Linked DNA regions of Homo sapiens. The protein of the gene in region 3 interacts with the protein of the main gene of each other region in a pairwise test. Each region holds a gene or a part of one and is shown on either strand. Other genes may lie near its edges.

Region 1 (10,664 bases), on a different chromosome or scaffold from region 3:
CATCAAAAAGTGGGCGAAGCATATAAACAGACACTTCTCAAAAGAAGACATTTATGCAGCCAACAGACACATGAAAAAATGCTCATCATCACTGGCCATCAGAGAAATGCAAATCAAAATCACAATGAGATACCATCTCACACCAGTTAGAATGGTGATCATTAAAAAAGTCAGGAAACAACAGGTACTGGAGAAGATGTGGAGAAATAGGAACACTTTTACACTGTTGGTGGGACTGTAAACTAGTTCAACCATTGTGGAAGACAGTGTGGCGATTCCTCAAGGTTCTAGAACTAGAAATCCCATTTGACGTAGCCATCCCATTACTGGGTATATACCCAAAGGATTATAAATCATGCTGCTATAAAGACATATGCACATGTATGTGTATTGTGGCACTATTCACAATAGCAAAGACCTGGAACCAACCCAAATGTCCAACAATGATAGACTGGATTAAGAAAATGTGGCACATATACACCATGGAATACTATGCAGCCATAAAGAAGCATGAGTTCATGTCCTTTATAGGGACATGGATGAAGCTGGAAACCATCATTCTGAGCAAACTATCGCAAGGACAAAAAACCAAACACCACATGTTCTCCCTCATAGGTGGGAATTGAACAATAAGAACACTTGGACACAGGGTGGGGAACATCACACACCAAGGCCTGTTGTGGAGTTGGGGGAGGGGGGAGGGATAGCATTAGGAGATATATCTAATGTAAATGACGAGTTAATGGGTGCAGCACACCAACGTGGCATATGTATACTTATGTAACAAACCTGCACATTGTGCACATGTACCCTAGAACTTAAAGTATAATAAAAAAAAATTAGTGCAGGAGCAGCAAGCAGTTCCCATGCTACTCTAGATCTGAGGAGTAGCTTTGGGTGCATTCCTGAAAGTGCAGGCTAGAATCTGTTTATTGATCAATTTAGTACTGACACAAGCCTGTAATATGCTGTAATAAACTTTCTGTTTAAAAAAAAAAAGGTTGACCATGTGTTTATAATTGTTAAAGCTGGGTGATGGATACATGAGTGTTTAGTATATTATCATTTCTAGTATTGAATATGTTTAAAATTTTGAAATTTTCCATAATGGTTAAAAATTATAACCTATGCAGATTTTATTGTACATAAGAATAATCTGGGAGAGTTATTTAAAAAGCTGATTTCTGGACCTCCACCCCAGAAAAGTCCAGTTGAGTTGGACAGAGGTAAGGCCCAGAAATCCTTGTTTGTAATCAGCATCCAATATTGAATAAAATTGCTTTAGGGGGTGGAAGCCATTGAATATTGAGTATGTGAATGACAGGAGCAAATTTGTCCCTCCGTATTTGAACACGCTGACTCCAGTGGATAATGAAGTGGAAAGGAGTGGGATAAGATGCAGTTGTAGTAATCCAGGAAAGGGCCATGGATGAACAGTGTGGTAGACTAAAGATAAGCCCGGGAGACAGATAAAAGAAACACACAGGAAGGCCAGGCGTAGTGGCTCACACCTGTAATCCCAGCACTTTGGGAGGCTGAGACGGGCGGATCACGAGGTCAGGAGATCAAGACCATCCTGGCCAACACGGTGAAACCCCGTCTCTACTAAAAATTTAAAAAATTGCCAGGCACAGTGGCTCACGCCTGTAATCCCAGCACTTTGGGAGGCCGAGGCGGGCGGATCACGAAGTCAGGAGATCGAGACCACGGTGAAACCCCATCTCTACTAAATATACAAAAAAATTAGCCAGGCATGGTGGTGGGCACCTGTAGTCCCAGCTACTCGGGAGGCTGAGGCAGGAGAATTGCCTGAACTCAGGAGGTGGAGCTTGCAGTGAGCCCAAATCGCACCACTGCACTCCAGTCTGGGCGAAAGAGTGAGACTCCATCTACAAAAAAAAAAAAAAAAAAAAAATACAAAAAGTACAAAAAATTAGACCGGGCGAGGTGGCGGGTGCCTGTAGTCCCGGCTACTCGGGAGGCTGAGGCAGGAGAATGGCGTGAACTTGGGAGGCAGAGCTTGCAGTGAGCCGAGATCGCGCCACTGCTCCAGCCTGGGGGACAGAACGAGACTCTATCTCAAAAAAAAAAAAGAAAAAAAAACAAAAAACACACGGGAGATGGAATTGGTTAAATCACGTGACTACTGGAAGGTGAGAGATAAAAGCACAATAAATATTTCCAAATTTCTGATTATGCTACTGGATAGATGGTGAAGCTGTTCTTTCAGTGAGGAAAGGAACATAGGAAAGGAATTGTGTTTGGCTGTTTTTGTAAGACATGAGTGTGATGTGTGGGTGGCTGTAGTATATAAAATAAGTAGGATGAAGCTATGCAGTTGTGTATTGAGCTACTGGATGAAGAGAATGGAGAGAGGCTATTGAACAGGAAGAATATTAAGAGATAGGGATTACCTCCAAATTCCTAACACTGCTTTAACCCTAGAGCCTTCAAATCTCTTTTCTTGGATTTCCCCATCTGTGAAAACGGAGGTAGAAACAGCCATGGTAGCATAAAATAATCAGCTATATCAGTGGCAGCCTTAAGATTGGAAAACCAGGAAAGGACATTCTTCTTTTCCCTTTCTGCAGAACTGGTCTTCAGGGTCTCCTGTTTCTACTCTCTCATTTTTACTGCACCCTTTTCACTCTCTCCCTTCCCGTCGTTCCAGGGTGGAGAGTTCTGAGGAGCCTGTATATGAGAGCCTTGAAGAGTTTCACGTCTTTGTCCTTGCTCATGTGCTTAGGAGGCCCATAGTCGTCGTGGCAGACACCATGCTGAGGGACTCCGGAGGGGAAGGTGAGTCAGCCAGTCAGTCCTCACTCCATGCTGAGCACCCCCTTTTGCAAAGCCTTAGGCTAAGCATTGGAAGGAAGGCAGGAAAGGGGATATATAGACCCTTGGGGAAAAAGCAAGTTATCAATTAGAATAGTGCAAAATTCTCAAGAGATTCTGAGTAAAGCAGTTGGGATTAGTTGACAGGGCTTCTTAGGAAAGAATTATTAAACATGTTGGAATGAAAGCAGGGAGGGACTCAGTTGGCAGAGTGGGATGTAGGGATTGTCCACTAGGCAGAAACACAGCCTTCATAATAATCTTCATGGCTTCCTGCAGCATTTGCCCCTATTCCCTTTGGAGGAATCTATCTGCCTTTGGAGGTCCCAGCCAGCCAGTGTCACCGCTCCCCTCTGGTGCTCGCCTATGATCAGGCCCACTTTTCTGCACTCGTGTCCATGGAGCAGAAGGAGAATACCAAGGAACAAGGTGCTGAATGACATGTCTTTTGGTCTGCATTATTTTCACTTGAAAAAATTGAATGAGATCTAATGTAGGAGGAAAGAATTAAGTGACATGCAAGCCCAGACAGCACATGTTGATACTGTTTTATTAAGCCAGAAGTTACGCCAGAGTTTTCAAATTAAAAAAAAAAGGGTTGGGAGAAAAGCAAGACCTATATACCCTCTTCTGGAGTAAAGGCTTATGATTAAGGTGTAAGAGCTTCTAAATGATGCTTTTCTAATTTGTCTTAAATTATGACTGAATTCTCTGAATATACATTAACTGGAAAGAACATCATGAGAGTTAGTTGACTGACTGGTGGGGACTCAGGGAGATTTGTGGCCTAAAACATATGCTGCGTGGTAGCGGGAAAACTAGCCAATTAGTTTTAATACCGGGGTAATTCACGTGTAAGAATTGAGAAGTGACTACAATTAAAGACCTTAGTATGATTTTAGTGAAATAAGTCTGTGTTCAGTTACCTTTCTCTCTTAAGGAGATTCCTTGATGATATGTTTCTTCCTCTCCAGCTGTGATCCCACTTACAGATTCAGAGTATAAGCTGCTGCCCTTGCACTTTGCTGTGGACCCTGGAAAGGGCTGGGAGTGGGGCAAAGATGATAGTGACAATGTCCGATTGGCCAGGTAAGCCAGGCCTAGTCTTTTCATCTATTTTGTGCTGGGATTTCTTCCACATGTGGCATCCATCTCCCAGGGATTTTTCCTCAGCTCAGGCAAGACAGTCACAAGCTAAGATGAGTTTTGGGAAGATGGGGAGGTAGAGGAGAGGTTGGGCACCAGGACTCTTTCATGGTGCAGCTGCTTTTTCTCCCTGTGAAAGAGATGGGAATCCTAGCATCTCAACTTGTTCTTTTCTTACAATAGGAAAAGTGTTCATACACTGATTCATCTCTAAAACATTGATCAGAAAATCAGGATAATCAGGCCGGGCATGGTGGCTTATGCCTGTAATTCCAGCACTTTGGGAGGCTGAGGTGGGTGGATCACGAGGTCAGGAGTTCGAGACAAGCCTGGCCAATATGGTGAAACCTCGTCTCTACTAAAAATACAAAAATTAGCCAGGCGTGGTGGTGCGTGCCTGTAATCCCAACTACTAGGGAGGCTGAGGCAGGAGAATCGCTTGAACCCAGGAGGCAGGGGTTGCAGTGAGCCGACATCGTGCCACTGCACTACAGCCTAGGCAACAGAGTGAGAGTCTGTCTCAAAAAAAAAAAAAGAAAGAAAGAAAATCAGGATAATCAAATCACATGTCTTAGCCCAAGTGAGAGGAGTTTTAAAGAGTTGATCAAGGCTGGGTGCGGTGGCTTATGCCTGTAATCCCAGCATGTTGGGAGAAACCACCATCAGAGTGAACAGGCAACCGAGGCAGGCAGATCACCTGAGGTCGGGAGTTTGAGACCAGCCTGGCCAACATGGAGAAACCACATCTCTACTAAAAATACAAAATTAGCCAGGCGTGGTGGTGCATGTCTATAATCCCATCTACTCGGGAGGCTGAGGCAGGAGAATAACTTGAATCCAGGAGGCGGAGGTTGCAGTGAGCTGAGATGGTACCATTACACTCCAGTATGGGCAACAAGAGTGAAACTCCATCCAAAAAATAAATAAATAAATACGTGATAAAAATAGTTTGCTCTGAGTTTTTGCCTTTCTGGAATTTAATAGCAAGAAAAATATGTTCCCTACCCTCTCAGCCCCCACTCTACCTCCCTGTGGCTTGTTAAGCCTTCCTTCTGCCTCCTGCATCAACTTCCTGATGGAGAGTGTATGAATGCAAAAGCTCCTCCCTTAGCACTTACCTAGTGCTTCACTCTCTGGGCTCCTGCCACTGGGTCCCAGCTAAGAGAGTTTGATTTTAAAATCCAGAGTTTATGGCTTTTTAAAAATAACCTCTCACCTATTTATCAAAAGCTCCTTCTAAATAATATTTACAACAACAACAATGATAATGGCTACTATCTAGTATTTCCCATTTTCCAGACACTGTGCTGGGCTCTTTCCAAACACTGTTTTAATCTTTACAACAACCCTACAGGATAGATATTATCTATACCCATTCTCAGCTGCAGCTGAGTTTCAGGGAGGTTGAAGTGACTTGCTCAAGGTCATAAAGCTTATTAATTGGTGGAGAAATAGTTCAAACCCAACCCTATTTGAGTCCTAAGCCATGTAGCCCTCTCCCACCCTTTCTCCCAACTATATCAAATTGCTTTGCTTTTAAAAGGTGACAGTAATTTGTTTTTTCTCTTTTTCATAGTGTAATTCTGTCCCTAGAGGTCAAATTGCATCTGCTGCATAGCTACATGAATGTGAAGTGGATCCCACTGTCCTCTGATGCACAGGTGAAGACTTCTCCCACATCTACCCTGGTGTGTCTTCATTTCATTTTCAGTGACAGAACAAGGAGATCTGGGATGGTTTCCTTCTGAATCTATTCTGAGTGGTGGCTTACAATTCAAGGTTAGAAGTAACTAGAAGATGTCAGATAAGTTCCAAAGACAATTTTTCCTGTTTTTATTGTATTTTTTATTTTTATTTTTGAGATGGAGTCTTGTTCTGTCACCCAGGCTGGAGTGCAATGGCACAATCTTGGCTCATTGCAACCTCCGCCTCCTGGGTTCAAGCGATTCTCCTGCCTCAGCCTCCTGAGTAGCTGGTATTACAGGCATGCGCCACCACGCCCAGCTAATTTTTGTATTTTTAGTAGAGGACAGGTTTCACCATGTTGGCCAGGCTGGTCTCGAATGCCTGACCTCAGATGATCTGCCCGCCTCAGCCTCCCACAGTGCTGGGATTACAAGTGTGAGCCACCGCGCCTGGCCTTTCCTGTCCTTTTTTTTTTTTTTTTTTTCAGAGGAAGTCTTGCTCTGTCAGCCAGGCTGAAATGCAGTGGCACAATCTTGGCTCACAGCAACCTCCACTTCCCAGGTTCAAGTGATTCTCCTGCATCAGCCTCACGAGTAGCTGGGATTACAGACGTGCGCCACCACACCCGGCTGATTTTTGTATTTTTAGTAGAGACGGAGTTTCACCACGTTGGCCAGGCTAGTCTCGAACTCCTGACCTCAGGTGATCCACCCACCTTGGCCTCCCAAAGTTCTGGGATTACAGGCATGAGCCACCACACCCAGCCCTTTCCTGCTTTTTAAAAACCGTTAGTCTCCTGTTTTCCACATCTCCTCTCCAGCCAGTCTCTGTTATCTGATACTAAAACATATATATATTTTTTGAGACGGAATCTTGCTCTTGATGCCCAGGCTGGAGTGCAATGACACGATCTCAGCTCACTGCAACCTCCACCTCTTGGGTTCAAGCGATTCTCCTGCCTCAGCCTCCCGAGTAGCTGAGATTGCAGGTGCCCGCCACCATGTCCAGCTAATTTTTCTATTTTTAGTAGAGATGGGGTTTCGCCATGTTGGCCAGGCTGGTCTTGTGATCCGCCTGCCTTGGCCCCCGAAAGTGCTGGGATTACAGGCGTGAGCCACCGCGCCTGACCTAAAACATATTATTATTATTATTATTATTTTTCTTTGAGATGGAGTTTCACTCTTTTTGCCCAGGCTGGAGTGCAATGGTGCGATCTCAGCTTATTGCAACCTCCGCCTCCTGGGTTCAAGCGATTCTCCTGCCTCAGCCTCCTGAGTAGCTGGGATTACAGACATGCACCACCACGTCCGGCTAATTTTGTATTTTTAGTAGAGATGGGGTTTCTCCATGTTGGTCAGGCTGGTCTGGAACTCCCGACCTCAGGTGATCCACCCACCTCGGCCTCCCAAAGTGCTGGGATTACAGGCATGAGCCACCGTGCCTGGCTTAACATATTCTTTAAGAAAGGTTTTCTGGACTGTTTGTTGAACTTGAGATGATCATTATTTCGTCCAAAGTCTTCTGTAGATAGACCTCTGTTTTGGGCACTAGGAGACGGAGTAGCTTAAAGAGCTCCTAATTCAGTGGGCTCTGAGTTAGAACAGGAGCACAGGAGTAGGGTCAAATTGATAACTCCAATGCAGAATGTATAAAAGTTGAGGGGATGCAAAGTGGCTAGACTTGGTTAGTTTTGATTAGTCAAGACTTTCTTGAGATTAGTTTCGAGCAGAATTTGGCATAGAGAAATGTATAATAAAGAACATTCTAATGTCTGGGCCTCTCACCCGGAAGCCACGTATCATATGGTTGCTCATTGTTCTAAATGAACAGTAAGGCTTTATTCTACTATCTCCTTATTACAGAAGGGAGTCAGATTGCAGTGGGGGAGAAAGCTGACTGACTGGAACCCAGGAAGGACAGTGCCATCCTGGGTGACCCTTCCCTCATCATGACAGAAGCCCTTCTCTGGAGCAAGGCAGTCACTAGGCAATCACTCAGAGGACGGAGTTCATAGGTGTCCATCCTTTTCTACCTGGCTAATTTCTATAGCCATGGCTGCAGGGAGCTCCCTGAGCCAGATGGATGGGCTAGAGGTCCCTGGGGGATTCCCCCACCCCAGGCTGCTGGGATAACTGTCAACAGTGTTCTTGTCTCTTCCAGGCTCCTCTGGCCCAGCCTGAGTCCCCCACCGCCTCAGCTGGAGATGAGCCCCGGTCCACTCCTGAGTCTGGAGACTCAGACAAGGAGTCAGTTGGCAGCAGTTCCACCAGCAACGAGGGCGGCCGGCGGAAGGAGAAGTCAAAGCGAGATCGGGAGAAGGACAAGAAGAGAGCAGATTCTGTGGCTAACAAACTGGGCAGCTTTGGCAAAACCTTGGGCAGCAAGCTCAAGAAGAACATGGGGGGCCTGATGCACAGCAAGGGTTCAAAGCCTGGAGGGGTGGGGACAGGGTTGGGAGGAAGCAGCGGCACTGAGACACTGGAGAAGAAGAAGAAAAACTCACTGAAGAGCTGGAAGGGTGGCAAGGAGGAGGCAGCTGGGGATGGGCCTGTGTCTGAGAAGCCCCCAGCTGAGTCTGTTGGTAACGGAGGGAGCAAGTATAGCCAGGAGGTGATGCAGAGCCTGAGCATTCTGAGGACTGCCATGCAAGGGGAGGGGAAGTTTATTTTTGTTGGAACCCTGAAGATGGGTCACCGTCACCAGTATCAGGAGGAAATGATCCAGCGCTACCTTTCTGATGCTGAGGAGAGATTCCTGGCAGAACAGAAGCAGAAGGAGGCAGAGAGGAAGATCATGAATGGAGGAATAGGGGGTGGCCCTCCTCCAGCCAAAAAGCCAGAGCCAGATGCTAGGGAAGAGCAGCCGACCGGTCCCCCAGCAGAGTCCAGGGCAATGGCATTTTCCACTGGCTACCCTGGGGACTTTACTATCCCTCGGCCGTCTGGGGGCGGAGTCCACTGCCAGGAACCCCGGAGGCAGTTGGCAGGGGGTCCATGTGTCGGGGGCCTACCACCATATGCCACCTTCCCCAGACAGTGCCCTCCTGGGCGACCCTACCCCCACCAGGACAGCATCCCTTCTCTGGAGCCAGGCAGCCACTCTAAGGATGGACTTCACAGGGGTGCCTTGTTACCACCCCCCTACCGAGTGGCTGATTCCTATAGCAATGGCTACAGAGAGCCCCCTGAGCCAGATGGATGGGCTGGAGGTCTCCGGGGCCTTCCCCCAACTCAGACCAAATGCAAACAACCGAACTGCAGCTTCTATGGACACCCTGAGACAAACAACTTCTGTTCCTGTTGTTACAGGGAAGAACTGAGGAGGAGGGAGCGGGAACCGGATGGGGAGCTCCTGGTGCACAGGTTCTGAACGGGTGGAACACTGAAGGGCAAGGAGGCTAAACAAAGTTAAGCTCAACTAATTGGCTCATCAAGAACACAGTCCCCATGTTGAGGGGGAAAATGCAGTAATGTTTGTGGGAGCCTGGCTGGAAACTTTTAAGTGTGTGCACACAGGAGTGCTGCCAGGCTGGCAAGAGCAGGTCGGGGCTGGATGGCACCTCAGGGGCTGTACTATTCCTCTGCAGAGCTTGACTTGATGAGGTTTGAGGTACAAGGGGAAAAGATGGCGATTCTGTCTTATAACCTCCTGGGTCCCATCCAGGGACCTAAGAGAAAGTAGCAGGGGAAGGTTTGGTGTGTGGGGGTGGGAGGTGGGCAGAAGTCTTGGGGAGGAATGGGCAAAGGAGGTTCTCAGTCAATAAAACCAAAGTTCTTTAGGTTGGGAAAAAGCACATGGTGGAGTGAGAAGTGTGGAGGGGAAGTGGGAAATTGGACACATTTGCTATTGATTTGAATTAAGCTAGAAATTAAGGTTGGATAAATTCTTCCCCTTGAAGGATCTGGAAAGACAAGGCAGTAATGTGTCCTCATGGGTGCCTGTTAGGAGGTGGGGGTAGTTTAAATCCGTTTGTTTAGATGGGAAAGGGAGGAACTTAAGAGGGAAATCCTTTTCCTCTTAAGGTTTATTTCCTTCCAAGCAGTCATATGTCATCTGTTACAGTTTGAGAAGAGATTGCTGATTACCCCCTGTCTTTTCCTCATCTAAGTCTTTAATTGTATTTGTTTAAAGGGAAGAGTGTGGTGAGAACAGCCGTCATGTGTGTTGCATTTTCTCCAGGTGAATTGGGGCAGAGCTGATCTATTTTTTAACCACAGCAATAACCATACGTTGGGGTTTGAGTGCACCTTGGGAGGGGTGGGAGGACAGACATTTTAGCCAGAGGCTGTTTCAAACAAAACCAAAAACCTAAGTAGAGCATTACAGGCCTCTGTGGCTGCTGCGTTTCTGTAGAAAGCAACTTATTTTATTGACTTTTTTTTTTAAGGAAAAGAAATAAAAAGACCCCAGCAAGCAAAAACATTTAAAAAATGATTTTTTTTCCTCCTACTTAAGTGGTTCTTTCTCCCTTTGCTCTACTTTTGGAGAATGAACTTAACATCCCGGCTTCTTTTGTTAAGCCATAGCTGACCTTAATCTGTGGTTAGTTTATTAAAATAATTAAAAATACTTTCTAAGAAGAGATATTTTTGATATTAGGACTGATGTTGAAACATATAGGGGCAATTTATAAAAAGGTAGTTAGAGAAATATATTTTAGTGAACTATAACCACAGAGCACAGATGACTCCCAATGAGCTGATCTGTCTTTAGGTTTCTCCCTTTCCCTGACCCTTCCCTGTTCTCTAGGGGCTGGGAGTGGGGATGCGGACACAGTAGGGGGAGCTCCTTCGCATTTTGCACAAAGCACAAGTCTGAACAGCCTATGCTCTGGCCAGAGCCATTTCTAAGAGCTTTAAACCGGAAGACCTATCCTGGGCCAATTTTCCTTTTTCTTTATATTTTTTTCCGGGAAAAAAAGTCAACTATGCAATTGTATACACTCCCGGGTGCATGTGAAGAAGGGGAATAAGTGTACTTATGTGTCCAGAGTATTA
Region 2 (11,656 bases), on a different chromosome or scaffold from region 3:
TATTTGAATGATTGTTTTATTTATGTAGTCTGCCAGACTATTAGGTAATATATAACATCCAGTTTCATGAATTAAGAGTGCCTGAGATGGCTGGGTGTGGTGGCTCATGCCTGTAATCCCAGCACTTTGGGAGGCCAAGGCAGGTGGATAACCTGAGGTCAGGAGTTTGAGACCAGCTTGGCCAACATGGCAAAACCCTATCTCTACGAAAAATACAAAAATTAGCCGGGTATGGTGACATGTGCCTGCAGTCCCAGCTACTTGGGAAACTGAGGCAGGGGAATAGGTTGAACCCAGGAGATGGAGGTTGCAGTGAGCCGAGATTGTGCGGCTGCACTGTAGCCTGGACAACAGAACAAGACTTTGTCTCAAAAAAAAAAAAAAATGCTTGAGATCTATTTTGTTGCTTTGTGTTTTAATAATAATTATGCTGTGATTCCTAGGGAAATCACTTTGGATATGCTACAGTTTCCTCTTTTAAAAACAATTTAGATCATTTAGTTGTTTGCTTAAATGTCTTTAAAGGCCTTAAATTGAAACAAAATGATATTGAGTTTATTTCTTGTACTCTAAATAAAGATATGAACTATGAGCCATCAGACACAGATCATAGATTGTGATAAACATGGGGAACTCAGCACAAGCCTACAAGAGAGTAAAGTCTTAAACATTCAATTGCCAAAAGATTGACTAAGGCTCTGTTTAATTATTGGTGTTATAAAAAGTGAGTAATATTTACCTGGCCATAATCGTATTGTGTAAAAGTCACTTATCTTTCCTGCCAGGTGCCACATTTCTCACAGTTATTTAAAAGAATGAGAAGAAATCTTTACTCAGTCACTCCTTTCCAAAATGTACCATTCCATCATCTTATATAATTTGGCAGAGGAGAGGATTATTAAGAAAGTTGATAAAAAATAAAAAGTGCCAACCCTAGCTCAGGTTCTGTACAAAATCAGTGACAAATGCCTATGTTAGCAAAGGGTACAAGCAAAAATGCACTACTAAGCAATGCTTTGGCAGTAACTAACTGGTTCAGTACTTATAAGACTTCTGTTAAAAACTCCTCCATATCTGATGCAATCAGTCTATTTGAATGATGAAAATTTTAAGGTGTTTGTTGTTAATAAACCCATATTATAAACATACTGAAAGGGCCTTTCTAGTTTGTTCATGCAAGGGGTTAATGATAAATCCAATTTTGCAGGAATATCAATTCCTAATAGATATGTCATAATGTCTTGGAATAGTGTTGTCACGAAGTTTACACTGACTGTAATTCATTAACTAAACTTTAACATCATCATGCAATATGGGTTCAGGTGACATTGTTGAATACTTTTTGGATTTTGGCAAAGATGCCTTAGAGTCATTAGTTATCTGTCAATAATTTACGAATCCTTTCTGAAATCTGTTAGCAAATATTTTTTATCATTATAAACATATTCTTGTAAATGTGAGTCATTAGAAGTATTCCATGTTGTGGTATCGAATGAGTTCAATGGGGTAGTGAAGGTGTTTAAAACAGAATGTTGTAATGGAAAATGCCCACACTTGCCAAATGGAAAGGGTCAGATGATACCTTGATTGAGAAAAAATAAATACAAAAACTGAGGGTGTGATTTGTTTTGTGTCCTCCCCCCCGCATGGCCAGAACATAAATTGCTTGTTAACTGTCACTGAGGCTGAGTCCCAAGCATCTGTTATTTGTACCACATGTGAACATTACTCTAGCCTCACTTTCAGAAAAATATGTTCATTTCTCACAAAGTACTGAGTACGTATTTCTATTCAATCAGCCTGATGGATAAGCTTCAAAGGACCAAAGTAACTCATTAATATAATGTTTCCTCAACAAGCCAGTGAGTTTTGTAGGAAAGCAAGAGAGTGACAAATGGCAAATAGTGTCTTTTAAAGATTCTGTTAGGAGTTATTAGGCAAGCTGGTAATACTACCACCCCCAATTTTTTGTACATTCTTAAAAATAATTATGTCTGATTAGAGGCAGACAGTATAGCATGAAATTCAATCTTTGTGCTATTACATGCTTTGTTAACCATGTACAATAAGGATGAGAAAAAAAGCAAATCACTTTATTTTTGGATTTATTATTATTAATAATTATTTATTCCTTATTCCTCATTATTTATTATTTCATTTATTATTTAAGAGATAGAGTGTCACTATATTGTGCAGGCTGGTCTCAAACTCCTGCCCTCAAGTGATCCTCTTGCTTCAGCCTTTCAAAGTGCTAGGATTTCAGGTGTTAAGCCACCGTGCCCAGCCACAAATCACTTTATGATGCTGTTTAATTATATGAATCCTATGAGGTCTTCTATAAGGTCTCTAATAGTGTATGTGACTAGGATAGAACTGGTGTCAGAAACAAAACCCAAAAACAGAAACTTTCGTATGTCTTCTAAAATTCCACTAAGGAAGATGTGTCTTTCACTTAAGATCCCAAGTCACAAAGCCCATAATCACTTTTTTTTTTTTTTTTTTGAGATGGAGTGTCACTTTGTCACCCAGGCTGGAGTGCAGTGGCACGATCTTGGCTCACTGCAACTTCCGTCTCCTGGGTTCAAGCAATTCTCCTGCCTCAGCCTCCAGAGTAGCTGGGATTACAGGCGTGTACCACCTTGCCCAGTTAATTTTTTGTATTTTTAGTAGAGACAGGGTTTCACCATGTTGGCCAGGCTGGTCTTGAACTCCTGATGACAAGTGATCCACCTGCCTCAGCCTCCCAAAGTGCTGGGATTACAGGTGTGAGCCACTGCGCCCAACCTCCATATTCACTTTTGATGACACGTTGAGTACTTTCTTTCTCTGACATGATACTGAGTACTTTATTTCTCATTTACATCTTACCACAAAAACTACTGGATTTCATCATTTTTGTCATTTTTACTTATGAGGAATTCAAGCCTTAAAAAAGCCAAGCATTACTTTGCCACCAAGAAGGAGGCAAAGTACAAATGGAAGCCCTGAGCTTTCTGACCTCAAATCCTAGGCTCTTAACCACCCTGCTACCCTGCCTTCATTCTTACCATGATCTCATAATTTGTGCTTATATAGGCTGCATTCAGCAACCCAAACTGACTGGTTTCCTCAGGAAAACTGTCAGAGCTACAACCAGTGCATTGAGAGGATCCGATGGACTATGTAATTTTATGGACTGAATGATATGAAAGGCCTCAGGAAATGTGTATCCAACACTTTGGCAGGTGTAAAAGAAGACCTACATATTTCAAAGCAGTTACAGATGCAAAATACGTCCATAGAAATATATGTTCCACACACTTGGAAGGCTAAGGCAGGAGGATCGCTTGAGCCCAGGAGTTCGACACCAGCCTGGGCAACATGGTGATATACTGTCCCTACAAAAAAATACAAAAATTAGCTGGGCCTCATGGCTCACACCTGTAATCCCAGCACTCTGGGAGGTCGAGGTGGGTGGATCACCTGAGGTCAGGAGTTTGAGACCATCCTGGCCAACATGGTGAAACCCCATCTTTACTAAAAATACAAAAATTAGCTGGGCGTGGTGGTGGGTGCCCGTAATCCCAGCTACTTGGGAGGCTGACATAGAAGAATCACTTGAACCCGGGAGGTGGAGGTTGCAGTGAACCGAGATCATGCCACTGCACTCCAGCCTGGGTGACAGAGTGAGACCTTGTCAAGAAAGAAAGAAGAAAGAAAAGAGAAAGAAGGAAAGAAGGAAAGGAAGGAAGGAAGGAAGGAAGGAAGGAAGGAGAGGGGGAAGGGAGGGGAGGGGCGAGGGGAGGAGGGGAGGGGAGAGGAGAGGAGAGGAAAGGAGAGGGAGAAAAAGAGAGAGAGAGAGAGAAAGAGAGAGAGAGAGAAGATGGGGAAGGTCCCTTCTGGGTTTCCATCTAAAATCAAAGAAGAAATCATTGGTTTCAATAATAATATTTTAAAATCCACCCTATGATTTTTTTTTCTTTAAAAGAAAAATATCAATCTAAGAAAATAATACCTAACATGGTGTTAATGAAAAGTAGGTTGGATTGGTTATGTGTACATAAGAACTTAAAGCTCAAAGGAAAAACAGCACGTATACCAGCATGTTGACCTGGCTCCGCTGACAGCCAGGATTACCAGTTATTTCACTTGGTGTGTACCAGTGCTACTTGGAAACTACCCACCTTCCATGAGCAGGTCTACTCAATAAAATCTTACTTTCATGAGGCTGTGAGGATATCCAAATGGGGACATTTCTTATACTCAGAAGACCACAAGTCACGAATGTGGCCACTTCTGATTCTGACTTCAGGGGTCACCCAGACCCCAAGCCACCCCAACCCGATAAAGGCAAGTTCACCTTGGGCAAAGTTCAGAGCCAGCAGCACAGCTGAAAGGCAGTGGACAGCACTTTCAGATGCTGTATTCCAACATTTCAACTGACATGAAGTGAGGCAAGAGGGGAAATAACTAACAGTAATCTGATTAAAAAACAAAAGAGAAAAAAAAAAGGGCCTGGTGTGGTGGCTCATGCCTGTAATCCCAGCACTTTGGGAGGCCGAGGCGGGTGAATCACCTGAGGTCAGGAGTTCGAGACCAGCCTGGCCAACATGGCAAAACCCCATCTCTACTAAAAATACAAAAATTAGCCGGGCATGGTGGCACGTACCTGTAATCCCAGCTACTAGGGGGGCTGAGGCAGGAGGATTGCTTGAACCTGGGAGGCGGAGGTTGCAGTGAGCCAAGATTGTACCACTGCAGTCCAGCCTGGGCAATGGAGCAAGACTCTGTCATTAAAAAAAAAAAAAAAAAAAGGACTGGCCTGGGTTTACAGGTAGCTCACACCTGTAATCTGAGCACTTGGGGAGGCTGAGGCAGGAGGACTGCTTGAACCCAGGAGACCAACCTGGGCAATACAGCAACACACTGTCTCTACAAAACATTTAAAAAATTAGCTGGGTGTGGTGGTACACATCTGTAGTCCTAGTTACTCAGGAGGCTGAGGCAGGAGGATTGCTTAAGTCCATGAGTCTGAGGTTGCAGTGAGCTATGACTGTGCCACTCCATTCCAGCCTGGGTGACAGAGTGAGATCCCATCTCTAAATAAATTAATAGACCATAAATTCTGTAATGTGAATCTTTAGACAAAGACTGCTAAATCTATCATCTGATATATGAAGTTTTATTACAACAAATGTTTATATATTGAGTTAAAAATTATCTGTACCCATACACACAACCTGCATTTACTTAATTTAAAAGGAGTGTCAATATTAAAATTGAGGATTTTGGCCAGGTGCGGTGGCTCACGCCTATAATTCCAGCACTTTGGGAGGCCGGGTAGATCATTTGAGGTCACAAGTTTGAGACCAGCCTGGCCAACACGGTGAAACCCCGTCTTGACTAAAAATGCAAAAATTAGCCGGGCATGGTGGTGTGCCCCTGTAATCCCAGCTACTGGGGAGGCTGAGGCGGGAGAATTGCTTGAACCCGGGAGACAGAAGCTGCAGTGAGCCGAGATCGTGCCACTGCACTCCAGCCTGGGCAACAGAGCGAGAACCCATCTCAAAAAAAAAAAATTGTTATTTTGTTGTTATTGTTGTTTTTGAAGACAGAGTCTCACTCTGTTGCCCAGGCTGGAGTGCGGTGGCATGATCTTGGATTGTGTTCTTCCAGGGTTGCAGAGAGAAGTGCAACAGCGTCTCATTGCAACCTCTGCCTCCCAGGTTCAAGCAATTCTCCCGCCTCAGCCTCCCAAGTAGCTGGGATTACAGGAGTGCACCATCACACCCAGCTAATTTTTGCATTTTTAGTAGAGATGGAGGTTTCACCATGTTGGCCAGGCTGGTCTCGAACTCCTGACCTCAGGTGATCCGCCTGCCTTGGCTTCCCAAAGTGCTGGGATTACAGGTGTGAGCCACCATGCCCAGCCTAAGAATAATAACTTTATAACTATGAAAAATGTGTTACATATTCACCATTTTGCCAGCATTAATCTCAAAGCATAAGTTTTACCTTTTGGGGATAAAGAGATAGATTGTGTTTTAGCCATATGACCAATGTAGAAACAAGCTAAGGTTAACTCCTCATCTAATGAATAGGCCCGATAAAAAAGTTGGTTGACCACAACATGAATAAATAAATAACCATAAGCTTGGAAATGCTACCTGTAGTATTTCAGAGTGTCGATCACATTTGTAGTCATCACTTAAAGAATTAATGTCTGCCAATGTTATCATCTAAAATGTATTTACAGAGGTCAGAAGAGCTATGTCTGTCCTCCTCTATGCAAAGAGGTGATGACATCAAGGGGTATGTCACAAGCCAAAGTTTAGTTAGCCTAAGTTAGTTAGCTGGTTTGCAGTTTTTATCCACTAAGTCTGATCTTCTGACCCCTCAGTTTTACAACTTTCCACTCTCTGTGCTGCATAGCACCTCTCCACTTCTGAGTTAATCATTTCTTTGCCATTATCTGGCAAGAATTCTTATCTCTTTTGCTGTCACTTTATAACAGGGTCCTCTTATCAACCTGCATAGAGTCATGTGATGAGTCAAAGCCTATCAAAAGTTTCCATTCTTCTGATTAGAAACCATCATGAAACTGGATACATGGTTTACAGCAGGTCACTAATGTTGGAAAAAGTACAGAGTCCAGGGAAAGACTTGCTTGTAACTTTATGAATTCTGGATTTTTTTTTTTCCTTTGCTTTTTCTTAACTTTCACTAAGGGTTACTGTAGTCTGATGTGTCCTTCCCAAGGCCACGAAATTTGACAAGCTGCACTTTTCTTTTGCTCAATGATTTCTGCTTTAAGCCAAAGAACTGCCTATAATTTCACTAAGAATGTCTTCTAATTCAGATACTGGGGATTTACAAGAGTCTTTAAAGCACGGACTTACACCTATTGGTAAGTAGGAGTTTCTCTATTGATCATCTATTTATTCTGCTACTACATACATATAATTTAATCTTGTTGATGGATTTTGCATTTTAAGTCATGGCTTTTCCTATTATGTTTATTAAAAGCACACAATAAGCCTATGTATATATATCACACATTTATCTTTCTTGCAGTTCAAAAAAAGCAAATGGATATTTCAACATATGAATATTATTCATTATATCTAGTGTTTACTGGTGTCATTCTAATACCCTAATCAGCCAGAAAATATAATTTATACTTTATCAATTTCAACTTTAATATTTTCTGATAATTTTTAATCAGAAATAATAAGCTAAAATTTGAACAATTTGAAACAAGTTAATCATATTGAGTGATCATTGATCAAACTTTAACAGATAGCTGTCAAGTATTTGTTACTTTTCAACCCACACAAAAGTATGGTGTCTTATTCTCTGCTTATACCGTAAAAAATTTTCATTTTATTTTCCTGGGGAATGAAAGTCATGCCCCCACCTCCAAAAAAAAAAAAAAAAAACCAAAAAAACTAGACCATCATTAGTAAAGGATTTGAAGAGCTACTGTTTCTCGCAACAATTAGTATATTTTGTTTTTACAAACAGAAATAAGTAAATAAAGCTACTATTCATTTAAAAAATAGAGTTACAAACTTATGAATTTTATAGCAAGACTACATTCAATTAATTCTAAAAGTAAAGGACTGAAGGGAAGTGATTCCCAGTGATCTGTAATTATTTGTCTGTTGGAAGTCAGGCCCTTCTGCCTTTCCCCAGTTTTTGAAGGACCTGTGCCTTTTCTGGCAGCATTTGCCTAGGCTTTCAGACTGGAATTTCCCTCCGAATTTGCAGGGGCCTGTCATGAGCTCTCTGAGTCTCAGCTCCATTATAACAAGAAAGAAAATCAAGGCTTGAGTTTTTCCTCTTTTTTCCTTCCTAGTCAGCTGACTCCACAGAATGCAGTGGAGTCACAGATTGCTTTTTTTATGGGCCAACTACACCCTAAAGTATATCACTTGAGGAAATGTTTACCAAAAATGTTCTATACTTACGAAAAAGAAAACATGGGGAAGGTAAGCAGGGTGTAACACACAATCAATTGTTCTGCAGATAACACAGAAAATACAGGCACAAGAAAGATGAGAGAGCAGCACACAACCATTTCGCATCTTTTTCGTCGGGCAGAACCGCCGCGGTGCGCAGGCAAGGAGTCCTTCCCGGCAGCTCCGCGCAGCTCCGGTTCCGCGTCCGGGGCCGCAGCTAGAGCGCGCTCGGGCCGGAGACGCGGACTGCGCGCGCACGGGGGACGCGCGCTCGGGGGCTCGCGCCCGCGCGGGCGGTCTTGGGCTCCTGCTGCGCGCAGCCCCAGCTGGCCGCTGCCAAAATAGAGTTGAGCTGGGTCGGGAGACCACGCACGCCGATCCCTCACAGTCTCCCCCACACCCCATGGGTGAATTAAAGAGGGTAAGGTAGGGGAAAGAGACGCTGTTGCACTTTTCTCTGCAACCCTGGAAGAACTGTGTTTCCAGCTACCGCACGCGCAACTCACATCGCAAGGGACCGAGGCGGTACACTCTGAGCGTAAACAGAGAACACCTGCAGCTCTGGAATCGGTCCCACCGCAGAGGGCTGGGAACCGGAGGACTGTCGGTCCAGCCCATAAGGGGCTGCTGGGGACTAAACCTCAAGAAAAGTACCGAAGAAGGCTCTCCCCTGGCCTCAGCGAGACTACCCCAACATCCTAAACCTGTGCAGGCACTTCCGGGCGCCGGATTCCGGGATAACAAAATTCCAGTCAATTTGCCGGTAAAAGAGACCTCTTTCAGGATCTTGTTCGCAGCCACCCGCCCCTTCCCAACCCAAGCACATCCCCTCCGCCTCCTGGTATTGCAGCCCCGCAGGTGGTTGTGAGGTGTCCGCACCTGCAACATCTTAGTGACCCTGAGGCGGCTGTGGCACCGGGAGACAATCTGTTTACCTCGTAGCCTCCACGAGGGTGCTAACGGTCGTTCCCAGGGTGAATGGCTGGACGGAGCCATCCAAAGGGCTGAGGGAGAGGAACAGAGGGCGGTGAGGAGCCTTCGGACTGAACTATTGGATTGAAGGGCCTGACCCGATTCCTGAGGGAGAGATGCCCCTTGAATGGGTCTTTCTGATTGCCCAGGGTAGCCCCACTGGGAAGAACCCACGGGTGCAGCTGTAGAGAGTGTCTGAGGGTCTCGAGGGTAGCTTTCAGATGGCAAATTGCAAGTTGGGCTGTGTTGAGTGGTTCACAAAACCGAGCCCGGTGTATGTAGACATCAGTCAGGGTTTACAATTCTATATTTAATTCAGTTGTGTTGTACTAGGAAATGAGCCTCCTTTTGTTTAAAAAGCTGTCTCCATGGTTTTTAACTAGGGGCTACATCTTGTATGCACACTGATGGTTACATGAAAGTTTTGTATAGATGTCTGTGCTTGTATAGAAAAGCAGAATTAAGATAAAGTTGTTCCTTCTGCCTACCTGCAAGATAATCATTCATTGTAGTGTAAAAGCAGCACACTCAGGTTATAACTAGATTGTTCCCTTAAAGTTAACTAACTCTGGGACACTGGCCAGACTCTTGGTTTCTGGTCTTGGTTTACTTCTTTCTCCCAAGTGGGATGATTCTATTGAATAATATGCAGTACTAACTTTAGAAGCTTTTTATACTTACCTATATCAAGAAAAGAGCCATATCTGTGTGGTAGGAAATGTTATACATAAAACAAATATTTATTGACCACTCCCACAGTGCCCAATATTATGCTTTGATTCATATTAAATTTCCATAATTCTTCAAATTAACTGCATTTGCAGAATATTTTATGCACTCAGTATAATATTGCATATTATCCACAGAAGGTTATGTCTGCATACTTAGGGGTACATGATACACAGTGCAAACACTGTATTGAGTCTGTAATGTGAGTCTTGCTATCTGGTCCCCTGAACACTCTGAGTCTGATTTTATTTCAGTGATAACCTCCAGCAAGCTCTGTGCTCATAAGGATCTCTGAAAGTAGACGTTTCATCAGCGGAAAGTGTGATAGCCATTATGTCACCCTAACCTCCAGCGAGCTTTATTTAGAATGCCAGCCACACAAGCCCATGTTCTGATTCTCATAGTTGGGGCTTAGGCTGCCAGTTTCTTCTATGAAGCTAAACTCTAGAGCCTCCCTTCTTTCCATGCCCGAGTCCATCTCCAAAACAGTGCTTCTCAGATTCCTCTTTTCTGGCCTGGATCCACAGGTAGTGACCAGAGTTAACAGAGTTCTTGGGCCAGGCACAGTGTCTCAAACTGGTAATCCCAATACTTTGGGAGACTGAGGATGGAGGATCACTTGGGCCCAGGAGATCCAGACCAGCCTAGGCAACATAGTGAGACCCAGTCTCTACAAAAAATAAAAAAATAAATAATTAGCTGGGTGTGGGTGTGGTGGCATGTGCCTGTAGTCCTAGTGACTAGGGCTTGGGGGTTGAGGTAGGAAGATCACTTGAGCCAGGGAGGTTGAGGATGCTGTGATTGTGCCATTGAACTCCAGCCTGGGCAACAAAGTGAGACCCTATCTCAAAAAAACAAAACAAAACAAAACAAAACAAAAAAAGGATTTCTTTTTCTTTAACACCTTTTTTTTTTTTTTTTTTTTTTTTGAGGCAGAGTTTCACTCTTGTTGCCCAAGCTGGAGTGCAATGGCATGATCTTGGCTCACTGCAGCCTCAGCCTTCTGGGTTCAAGAGATTCTCCTGCTTCAGCCTCCCAGGCAGCTGGGATTACAGGTGCACGCCACCACGCCTGGCTAATTTTTTGTATTTTTAGTAGAAATGGGGTTTCACCATGTTAGCCAGGCTGGTCCCGAAATCCTGACCTCAGGTGATCCACCCACCTCAGCCTCCCAAAGTGCTGGGATTACAAATGTGAGCCACCACACCTGGCATCTTTAACACCTCTTCTAACAAACCAAGAGAGATTTATAGAGGAAGGGAGAACAGAGGCTTGTTAATGCTTCTCTCCTTTACTTGACCCCTCTACCAGACACAATGTCTAGGATTATCTTGGATTCAGCCTTGAGCATAAGTTGAGCTAGAGAAGGGCACATTGTCAGACTTCCACCTACAGGCCCAACCCAATCCCCACCCCCAGGGATGCACTAGGCAGGCAAGACAACTTCACTCCGCAGCTCTAGAGTCTACCTTAGGATAGAACTAGTTCTTTGAGTTGCACTTCCTCACGCTTCACCTTATTGGAACAGACTTCTTGGAAAAATCCAGTTGGCTTCAAGGAACTTCAGGAGGGCATTGTGCTCTGGGGAGGCCCTGGGGAAGTGTTGAAATGTGACCAATATGATCTTGAGAGATCAAGCTTGAGAAAACCATGTGAACTGGAACTGACCAGGCAAGCTGATAAAGGTTGTCTCTTCTTTAGTCTTTTGGGAAGCTGTTATGTATGTTTTTGTGTGGTTGATAAGTAAGAAAAGATATTTGGAGTGTAACTTTTAAACACCAAATAACCTGAATGCAGATGACCATGAGCACTTATATGAGCAGTTTTATCTGGTGATAATGTAATTGTCCCCAAGGACTTTGTCAAGCCCTGCAAGACAATCAAGTTAGCAAGCACATCCCACTGGAAGGTGATCCTAGAATGGTTAGTGATTCCCTTTTTACTTTCCTTACAGAATGATGAGTTTGAGTGAAGCTAAGGGGAAAGACAAAGGGGAACTGATATATATATATATA
Region 3 (10,664 bases):
AGTAGCTCGCCTGAGCCAGAGATTTCCCAAAGCTGAGTTTGCAGAAGTTTCCAAGTTAGTGACAGATCTTACCAAAGTCCACACGGAATGCTGCCATGGAGATCTGCTTGAATGTGCTGATGACAGGGTAAAGAGTCGTCGATATGCTTTTTGGTAGCTTGCATGCTCAAGTTGGTAGAATGGATGCGTTTGGTATCATTGGTGATAGCTGACAGTGGGTTGAGATTGTCTTCTGTGCTTTCGTCTGTCCTATCTTCAATCTTTCCCTGCCTATGGTGGTGGTACCTTTCTGTTTTTAACCTGGCTATAAATTACCAGATAAACCCATTCACTGATTTGTAACTCCTTTCAGTCATGCTCTAACTGTAAATGAAGGCTTAAACTGAAGTAGAACAGTTACAAGGTTTTACTTGGCAGAACATCTTGCAAGGTAGATGTCTAAGAAGATTTTTTTTTCTTTTTTTAAGACAGAGTTTCGCTCTTGTTTCCCAGGCTGGGGTGCAATGGTGTGATCTTGGCTCAGCGCAACCTCTGCCTCCTGGGTTCAAGTGATTCTCATGCCTCAGCCTCCCAAGTAGCTGGGATTACAGGCATGCGCCACCACACCTGGCTAATTTTGTATTTTTAGTAGAGGCGGGGTTTCACCATATTGTCCAGACTGGTCTCGAACTCCTGACCTCAGGTGATCCACCCGCCTTGGCCTCCCAAAGTGCTGGGATTACAGGCATGAGCCACCTTGCCCAGCCTAAGAAGATTTTTTGAGGGAGGTAGGTGGACTTGGAGAAGGTCACTACTTGAAGAGATTTTTGGAAATGATGTATTTTTCTTCTCTATATTCCTTCCCTTAATTAACTCTGTTTGTTAGATGTGCAAATATTTGGAATGATATCTCTTTTCTCAAAACTTATAATATTTTCTTTCTCCCTTTCTTCAAGATTAAACTTATGGGCAAATACTAGAATCCTAATCTCTCATGGCACTTTCTGGAAAATTTAAGGCGGTTATTTTATATATGTAAGCAGGGCCTATGACTATGATCTTGACTCATTTTTCAAAAATCTTCTATATTTTATTTAGTTATTTGGTTTCAAAAGGCCTGCACTTAATTTTGGGGGATTATTTGGAAAAACAGCATTGAGTTTTAATGAAAAAAACTTAAATGCCCTAACAGTAGAAACATAAAATTAATAAATAACTGAGCTGAGCACCTGCTACTGATTAGTCTATTTTAATTAAGTGGGAATGTTTTTGTAGTCCTATCTACATCTCCAGGTTTAGGAGCAAACAGAGTATGTTCATAGAAGGAATATGTGTATGGTCTTAGAATACAATGAATATGTTCTGCCAACTTAATAAAGGTCTGAGGAGAAAGTGTAGCAATGTCAATTCGTGTTGAACAATTTCCACCAACTTACTTATAGGCGGACCTTGCCAAGTATATCTGTGAAAATCAAGATTCGATCTCCAGTAAACTGAAGGAATGCTGTGAAAAACCTCTGTTGGAAAAATCCCACTGCATTGCCGAAGTGGAAAATGATGAGATGCCTGCTGACTTGCCTTCATTAGCTGCTGATTTTGTTGAAAGTAAGGATGTTTGCAAAAACTATGCTGAGGCAAAGGATGTCTTCCTGGGCATGTAAGTAGATAAGAAATTATTCTTTTATAGCTTTGGCATGACCTCACAACTTAGGAGGATAGCCTAGGCTTTTCTGTGGAGTTGCTACAATTTCCCTGCTGCCCAGAATGTTTCTTCATCCTTCCCTTTCCCAGGCTTTAACAATTTTTGAAATAGTTAATTAGTTGAATACATTGTCATAAAATAATACATGTTCATGGCAAAGCTCAACATTCCTTACTCCTTAGGGGTATTTCTGAAAATACGTCTAGAAACATTTTGTGTATATATAAATTATGTATACTTCAGTCATTCATTCCAAGTGTATTTCTTGAACATCTATAATATATGTGTGTGACTATGTATTGCCTGTCTATCTAACTAATCTAATCTAATCTAGTCTATCTATCTAATCTATGCAATGATAGCAAAGAAGTATAAAAAGAAATATAGAGTCTGACACCAGGTGCTTTATATTTGGTGAAAAGACCAGAAGTTCAGTATAATGGCAATATGGTAGGCAACTCAATTACAAAATAAATGTTTACATATTGTCAGAAGTTGTGGTGATAAACTGCATTTTTGTTGTTGGATTATGATAATGCACTAAATAATATTTCCTAAAATTATGTACCCTACAAGATTTCACTCATACAGAGAAGAAAGAGAATATTTTAAGAACATATCTCTGCCCATCTATTTATCAGAATCCTTTTGAGATGTAGTTTAAATCAAACAAAATGTTAATAAAAATAACAAGTATCATTCATCAAAGACTTCATATGTGCCAAGCAGTGTGTGCTTTGTGTAGATTATGTCATATAGTTCTCATAATCCACCTTCCGAGACAGATACTATTTATTTTTTGAGACAGAGTTTTACTCTTGTTGCCCAGGCTGGAGTGCAATGGTGCCATCTCGGCTCACCACAACCTCCGCCTCCCAGGTTCAAGCGATTCTCCTGCCTCAGCCTCCTGGGATTACAGGCATGCACCACCATGCCTGGCTAATTTTGTATTTTTAGTAGAGATGGGGTTTCACCATGTTGGTCAGACTGGTCTCAAACTCCTGACCTCTGGTGATATGCCTGCCTCAGCCTCCTAAAGTGCTGGGATTACAGGCATGAGCCACTGTGCCCAGCCGACAGATACTATTATTATTTCCATTCTACCGAGAAGGAGACTAAGGCTCTGATCATTTAAATAAGTTGCCTAAGGTGATGCAGTGATATAAGTAGCAGAGCTAGGAATTGAGCCTTGGTAACTTTAACTCTGGACCCCAAGTCCTTAGCTACTAAGCTTTACTGCATGGGGTTTAGTCAAATTAAGACTTTTGGAATATGAGTTACTTTTGAGATTAGCTTTGTGATATTTTTTGTGCTCATTTGTCCAACAAAGTCTATTTTATTTTCATCTTAATTAGGTTTTTGTATGAATATGCAAGAAGGCATCCTGATTACTCTGTCGTGCTGCTGCTGAGACTTGCCAAGACATATGAAACCACTCTAGAGAAGTGCTGTGCCGCTGCAGATCCTCATGAATGCTATGCCAAAGTGGTAGGTTTATTGTTGGAAAAAAATGTAGTTCTTTGACTGATGATTCCAATAATGAGAAAGAAAAATAATGCAAGAATGTAAAATGATATACAGTGCAATTTAGATCTTTTCTTGAGATGGTTTCAATTCTGGAATCTTAAACATGAAAGAAAAAGTAGCCTTAGAATGATTAACAAAATTTAGACTAGTTAGAATAGAAAGATCTGAATAGAGCAATCTCTAAAAAATTTTGATCTTTTTTTCTCTTTTTCACAATCCTGAGAACAAAAAAAAATTAAATTTAAATGTTAATTAGAAGATATTTAACTTAGATGTAAAGTGAGTTAACCTGATTCCAGGATTAATCAAGTACTAGAATTAGTATCTTATGGCAAATTATAGAACCTATCCCTTTAGAATATTTTCAAATCTTTTTGAGGATGTTTAGGAATAGTTTTACAAGAAATTAAGTTAGGAGAGGAAATCTGTTCTGGAGGATTTTTAGGGTTCCCACTAGCATATGTAATGGTTTCTGAACTATTCAGAATCAGAGAAAACTCATTTTTCCTGCTTTCAAGAAGCTACTGTATGCCAGGCACCATGCACAAACAATGACCAACGTAAAATCTCTCATTTTGGAGAGCCTGGAATCTAACTGGAAAGGTGAACTAATAATAATAATATGTACAATCATAGCCATCATTTATTAAACTTTTATTATATGCAAGGCACTGTTTAATTTCATTAGCTTACCTGGTTTACAGAGCAGCTCTATGAGATGAGTGCCATCTTTGCCCCTATTTTAGGGATAAGGATTCTGAAATGTGGAGATGGTAAGTAAAATTGCACAACTGAAGAATGAGTTACATGACTTGGCTCAAATACTGGTCATTGAACTCCAGAGCCTGAATATTCTTAACCACTTACATGATGCAAGCTCACCAAATAAATAGTTCGAATGTATTGTGACAGAGCGGCATTGATATTCATCTATTCATGTGGCTTTGAGTAGGAAGAAGAAAGGATATCATTCTGACCAGAGGGGTGAAAAACAACCTGCATCTGATCCTGAGGCATAATACTATTAACACAATTCTTTTATGTTTCAGTTCGATGAATTTAAACCTCTTGTGGAAGAGCCTCAGAATTTAATCAAACAAAATTGTGAGCTTTTTGAGCAGCTTGGAGAGTACAAATTCCAGAATGCGTAAGTAATTTTTATTGACTGATTTTTTTTATCAATTTGTAATTATTTAAGACTTAATATATGAGCCACCTAGCATAGAACTTTTAAGAATGAAAATACATTGCATATTTCTAATCACTCTTTGTCAAGAAAGATAGGAGAGGAGAGATAAAATAGTTGATGGGGTGGAGAGGTCTATATTTGAATGTAGTCTAAAAATTGTTCTCTTAAGATTGGAAGTATGTAGGCTGGGAGGGTAAATACCAAATCTTGGTATATCAGAACTGAGCATGTCCCTTGAAGGTTAAGAAATAGTTAATGGGCAAATAGAGCATGGCAATATTTTGTAGAGCAGCAAGTAGTAGGCCTTGAATAGATGTCGCTCAAAAAGTAATATGTAAGCTGAACACAAAAATGTAACAAATGAATTTAGATACATATTTGAATATTAAATTCAGGTTGTTTGGGAGATGCACCTAGTCTTTGATGGTTAAACCTTTCCCTCCATAGAAGAGACAGAGACAGAATGGCTTGCTGGACTAATGTCCCAATTCAATAGAGTCTTATCTATGAAGGTTAAAAACAAGAAGAGACATATTATACAGTAGATATTTATTGTGTGGCTCATACACATGGTGCTCTTCTGATTATGGATTTTAGAGATAATAACAGTGAACAAGACATAGTTTCTTTCCTCGAGTAGATTAAAGTCATACATTGACTTTTAATGGTGACTGGCATTCTTAATACATGATTATTATATATTAGGTACCATGTCAGATTAATTATAATACTTTACTACTTTTAATTTAACCCTTGAACTATCCCTATTGAGTCAGATATATTTCCTTCCATTTTCTACTTGTATCTTTCAAGTTTAGCATATGCTGATACATATGAAGCTCTCTCCAGGTTTTATTGAAAGAAGAAATTAATAAATTTATTAATGTCACTGAATTAGGCAACTCACTTTCCCAAGATTATGCAAGTGGTACAGGTGGAACTCAAAGCCAAGTTTAACTAGTTGTTCAGGAGAATGTTTTCTACCCTCCACTAACCCACTACTCTGCAGATGGAGATAATATGATGAATGGAACATAGCAACATCTTAGTTGATTCCGGCCAAGTGTTCTCTGTTTTATCTACTATGTTAGACAGTTTCTTGCCTTGCTGAAAACACATGACTTCTTTTTTTCAGGCTATTAGTTCGTTACACCAAGAAAGTACCCCAAGTGTCAACTCCAACTCTTGTAGAGGTCTCAAGAAACCTAGGAAAAGTGGGCAGCAAATGTTGTAAACATCCTGAAGCAAAAAGAATGCCCTGTGCAGAAGACTATGTGAGTCTTTAAAAAAATATAATAAATTAATAATGAAAAAATTTTACCTTTAGATATTGATAATGCTAGCTTTCATAAGCAGAAGGAAGTAATGTGTGTGTGTGCATGTTTGTGTGCATGTGTGTGTGCATGCACGTGTGTGTATGTGTGATATTGGCAGTCAAGGCCCCGAGGATGATAATTTTTTTTTTTTTTTTGAGACGGAGTCTCGCTTTGTTGTCCAGGCTGGAGTGCAGTGGTGCCATCTCGGCTCACTGCAACCTCCGCCTCCCAGGTTCAAGCCATTCTCCTGCCTCAGCCTCCCAAGTAGCTGGGACTACAGGTGCATGCCACCATGCCTGGCTAATTTTTTGTATTTTTAGTAGAAAATTTTCAGCTTCACCTCTTTTGAATTTCTGCTCTCCTGCCTGTTCTTTAGCTATCCGTGGTCCTGAACCAGTTATGTGTGTTGCATGAGAAAACGCCAGTAAGTGACAGAGTCACCAAATGCTGCACAGAATCCTTGGTGAACAGGCGACCATGCTTTTCAGCTCTGGAAGTCGATGAAACATACGTTCCCAAAGAGTTTAATGCTGAAACATTCACCTTCCATGCAGATATATGCACACTTTCTGAGAAGGAGAGACAAATCAAGAAACAAACGTGAGGAGTATTTCATTACTGCATGTGTTTGTAGTCTTGATAGCAAGAACTGTCAATTCAAGCTAGCAACTTTTTCCTGAAGTAGTGATTATATTTCTTAGAGGAAAGTATTGGAGTGTTGCCCTTATTATGCTGATAAGAGTACCCAGAATAAAATGAATAACTTTTTAAAGACAAAATCCTCTGTTATAATATTGCTAAAATTATTCAGAGTAATATTGTGGATTAAAGCCACAATAGAATAACATGTTAGGCCATATTCAGTAGAAAAAGATGAACAATTAACTGATAAATTTGTGCACATGGCAAATTAGTTAATGGGAACCATAGGAGAATTTATTTCTAGATGTAAATAATTATTTTAAGTTTGCCCTATGGTGGCCCCACACATGAGACAAACCCCCAAGATGTGACTTTTGAGAATGAGACTTGGATAAAAAACATGTAGAAATGCAAGCCCTGAAGCTCAACTCCCTATTGCTATCACAGGGGTTATAATTGCATAAAATTTAGCTATAGAAAGTTGCTGTCATCTCTTGTGGGCTGTAATCATCGTCTAGGCTTAAGAGTAATATTGCAAAACCTGTCATGCCCACACAAATCTCTCCCTGGCATTGTTGTCTTTGCAGATGTCAGTGAAAGAGAACCAGCAGCTCCCATGAGTTTGGATAGCCTTATTTTCTATAGCCTCCCCACTATTAGCTTTGAAGGGAGCAAAGTTTAAGAACCAAATATAAAGTTTCTCATCTTTATAGATGAGAAAAATTTTAAATAAAGTCCAAGATAATTAAATTTTTAAGGATCATTTTTAGCTCTTTAATAGCAATAAAACTCAATATGACATAATATGGCACTTCCAAAATCTGAATAATATATAATTGCAATGACATACTTCTTTTCAGAGATTTACTGAAAAGAAATTTGTTGACACTACATAACGTGATGAGTGGTTTATACTGATTGTTTCAGTTGGTCTTCCCACCAACTCCATGAAAGTGGATTTTATTATCCTCATCATGCAGATGAGAATATTGAGACTTATAGCGGTATGCCTGAGCCCCAAAGTACTCAGAGTTGCCTGGCTCCAAGATTTATAATCTTAAATGATGGGACTACCATCCTTACTCTCTCCATTTTTCTATACGTGAGTAATGTTTTTTCTGTTTTTTTTTTTTCTTTTTCCATTCAAACTCAGTGCACTTGTTGAGCTCGTGAAACACAAGCCCAAGGCAACAAAAGAGCAACTGAAAGCTGTTATGGATGATTTCGCAGCTTTTGTAGAGAAGTGCTGCAAGGCTGACGATAAGGAGACCTGCTTTGCCGAGGAGGTACTACAGTTCTCTTCATTTTAATATGTCCAGTATTCATTTTTGCATGTTTGGTTAGGCTAGGGCTTAGGGATTTATATATCAAAGGAGGCTTTGTACATGTGGGACAGGGATCTTATTTTACAAACAATTGTCTTACAAAATGAATAAAACAGCACTTTGTTTTTATCTCCTGCTCTATTGTGCCATACTGTTAAATGTTTATAATGCCTGTTCTGTTTCCAAATTTGTGATGCTTATGAATATTAATAGGAATATTTGTAAGGCCTGAAATATTTTGATCATGAAATCAAAACATTAATTTATTTAAACATTTACTTGAAATGTGGTGGTTTGTGATTTAGTTGATTTTATAGGCTAGTGGGAGAATTTACATTCAAATGTCTAAATCACTTAAAATTGCCCTTTATGGCCTGACAGTAACTTTTTTTTATTCATTTGGGGACAACTATGTCCGTGAGCTTCCGTCCAGAGATTATAGTAGTAAATTGTAATTAAAGGATATGATGCACGTGAAATCACTTTGCAATCATCAATAGCTTCATAAATGTTAATTTTGTATCCTAATAGTAATGCTAATATTTTCCTAACATCTGTCATGTCTTTGTGTTCAGGGTAAAAAACTTGTTGCTGCAAGTCAAGCTGCCTTAGGCTTATAACATCACATTTAAAAGCATCTCAGGTAACTATATTTTGAATTTTTTAAAAAAGTAACTATAATAGTTATTATTAAAATAGCAAAGATTGACCATTTCCAAGAGCCATATAGACCAGCACCGACCACTATTCTAAACTATTTATGTATGTAAATATTAGCTTTTAAAATTCTCAAAATAGTTGCTGAGTTGGGAACCACTATTATTTCTATTTTGTAGATGAGAAAATGAAGATAAACATCAAAGCATAGATTAAGTAATTTTCCAAAGGGTCAAAATTCAAAATTGAAACCAAAGTTTCAGTGTTGCCCATTGTCCTGTTCTGACTTATATGATGCGGTACACAGAGCCATCCAAGTAAGTGATGGCTCAGCAGTGGAATACTCTGGGAATTAGGCTGAACCACATGAAAGAGTGCTTTATAGGGCAAAAACAGTTGAATATCAGTGATTTCACATGGTTCAACCTAATAGTTCAACTCATCCTTTCCATTGGAGAATATGATGGATCTACCTTCTGTGAACTTTATAGTGAAGAATCTGCTATTACATTTCCAATTTGTCAACATGCTGAGCTTTAATAGGACTTATCTTCTTATGACAACATTTATTGGTGTGTCCCCTTGCCTAGCCCAACAGAAGAATTCAGCAGCCGTAAGTCTAGGACAGGCTTAAATTGTTTTCACTGGTGTAAATTGCAGAAAGATGATCTAAGTAATTTGGCATTTATTTTAATAGGTTTGAAAAACACATGCCATTTTACAAATAAGACTTATATTTGTCCTTTTGTTTTTCAGCCTACCATGAGAATAAGAGAAAGAAAATGAAGATCAAAAGCTTATTCATCTGTTTTTCTTTTTCGTTGGTGTAAAGCCAACACCCTGTCTAAAAAACATAAATTTCTTTAATCATTTTGCCTCTTTTCTCTGTGCTTCAATTAATAAAAAATGGAAAGAATCTAATAGAGTGGTACAGCACTGTTATTTTTCAAAGATGTGTTGCTATCCTGAAAATTCTGTAGGTTCTGTGGAAGTTCCAGTGTTCTCTCTTATTCCACTTCGGTAGAGGATTTCTAGTTTCTTGTGGGCTAATTAAATAAATCATTAATACTCTTCTAAGTTATGGATTATAAACATTCAAAATAATATTTTGACATTATGATAATTCTGAATAAAAGAACAAAAACCATGGTATAGGTAAGGAATATAAAACATGGCTTTTACCTTAGAAAAAACAATTCTAAAATTCATATGGAATCAAAAAAGAGCCTGCAGAACCAAAGTAAGACTAAGCAAAAAGAACAAATTACCTGATTTCAAACTACACTATAAGGCCATAGTCACCGAAACAGCAAGGTACTGGTATAAAAATAGGCACACAGACCAATGGAATAGAACAGAATAGAGAACCCAGAAATAAATCCACATACTTACAGCTAACTGATTTTAGACAAAGAAAACAAAAACATAAGGTGGGGAAAGGACAACTTTTTCAACAAATGGTGCTAGGATAATTGGCAAGCACATGTAGGAGACTGAAGCTAGATCCTCATCTCTCACCTTATACAAACATCAACTCAAGATGGATTAGGAACTTAAATCTAAGGCCTAAAACTATAAAAATTCTAGAAGATAACATTGGGAAAAACCCTTCTACATATAGGCTTAGGCAAGGATTTCATGACCAAGAACCCAAAACAAATACAATGAAAACAAAGATAAATTGCTGGGACTTCATTAAACTAAAGAGCTTTTGCATGGCATGGCAAAAGAAACAGTCAGCTGAGTAAACAGACAACCCACAGAGTGAGAAAAAAATCTTCACAATCTATACTTCTGACAAAGGACTAATATCCAGACTCTACAATGAACTCAAATCAACAAGAAAAAAAAAATCCCATCAAAAAGTGGGCTAAGGACATGAATAGACAATTCTCAAAAGAAAATATACAAATTGAAAACAAACATGAAAAAATGCTCATCATCACTAATAATCATGGAAATGCAAATCAAAACCACACTGTGATACCACCTTACCTCTGCAAGAATGGCCATAATTAAAAAAATAAAAAAATAGTAGATGTTGGCATGGATGCAATGAACAGGAAACACTTCTACACTGATGGTGGGAATGTAAACTGGTACAATTACTATGGAAAACAGTGTGAAGATTCCTCAAAGAACTGAAATAAAACTACCATTTGATTCAATAATCCCACTACTGGGTATCTATCCAGAGGAAAAAAAGTCATTATACAAAAAAGATACTTGCACACGCATGTTTATAGCAGCACAATTTGCGATTGCAAAAATGTGGGACCAACCCAAATGCCCATCAATCAACGAGTAGATAAAGAAACAGTATATAT

What was found.
Region 1: the proteins of ALB (region 3) and OTUD7B interact in binary tests that used the Homo sapiens proteins (3 or more experiments, as listed by UniProt).
Region 2: the proteins of ALB (region 3) and NR5A2 interact in a two-hybrid assay, tested with the Homo sapiens proteins (one study listed by BioGRID).

Annotation. Positions count from the first base shown.
Region 1 is NC_000001.11:149,942,229-149,952,892, reverse strand, and holds part of OTUD7B (OTU domain-containing protein 7B), read left to right. Parts: intron 1-2,671; coding exon 2,672-2,799; intron 2,800-3,114; coding exon 3,115-3,264; intron 3,265-3,809; coding exon 3,810-3,924; intron 3,925-5,557; coding exon 5,558-5,642; coding exon of another isoform or gene 5,643-5,669; intron 5,670-7,827; coding exon 7,828-9,036; 3' UTR 9,037-10,664. UniProt on the Homo sapiens protein: Negative regulator of the non-canonical NF-kappa-B pathway that acts by mediating deubiquitination of TRAF3, an inhibitor of the NF-kappa-B pathway, thereby acting as a negative regulator of B-cell responses.
Region 2 is NC_000001.11:200,021,026-200,032,681, forward strand, and holds the start of NR5A2 (nuclear receptor subfamily 5 group A member 2), read left to right. Parts: upstream 1-6,684; 5' UTR 6,685-6,822; coding exon 6,823-6,886; intron 6,887-11,656. UniProt on the Homo sapiens protein: Orphan nuclear receptor that binds DNA as a monomer to the 5'-TCAAGGCCA-3' sequence and controls expression of target genes: regulates key biological processes, such as early embryonic development, cholesterol and bile acid synthesis pathways, as well as liver and pancreas morphogenesis.
Region 3 is NC_000004.12:73,411,999-73,422,662, forward strand, and holds the end of ALB (albumin preproprotein), read left to right. Parts: coding exon 1-127; intron 128-1,421; coding exon 1,422-1,636; intron 1,637-3,036; coding exon 3,037-3,169; intron 3,170-4,257; coding exon 4,258-4,355; intron 4,356-5,532; coding exon 5,533-5,671; intron 5,672-6,089; coding exon 6,090-6,313; intron 6,314-7,508; coding exon 7,509-7,641; intron 7,642-8,255; coding exon 8,256-8,300; 3' UTR 8,301-8,323; intron 8,324-9,093; 3' UTR 9,094-9,484; downstream 9,485-10,664. UniProt on the Homo sapiens protein: Binds water, Ca(2+), Na(+), K(+), fatty acids, hormones, bilirubin and drugs. Its main function is the regulation of the colloidal osmotic pressure of blood. Major zinc transporter in plasma, typically binds about 80% of all plasma zinc.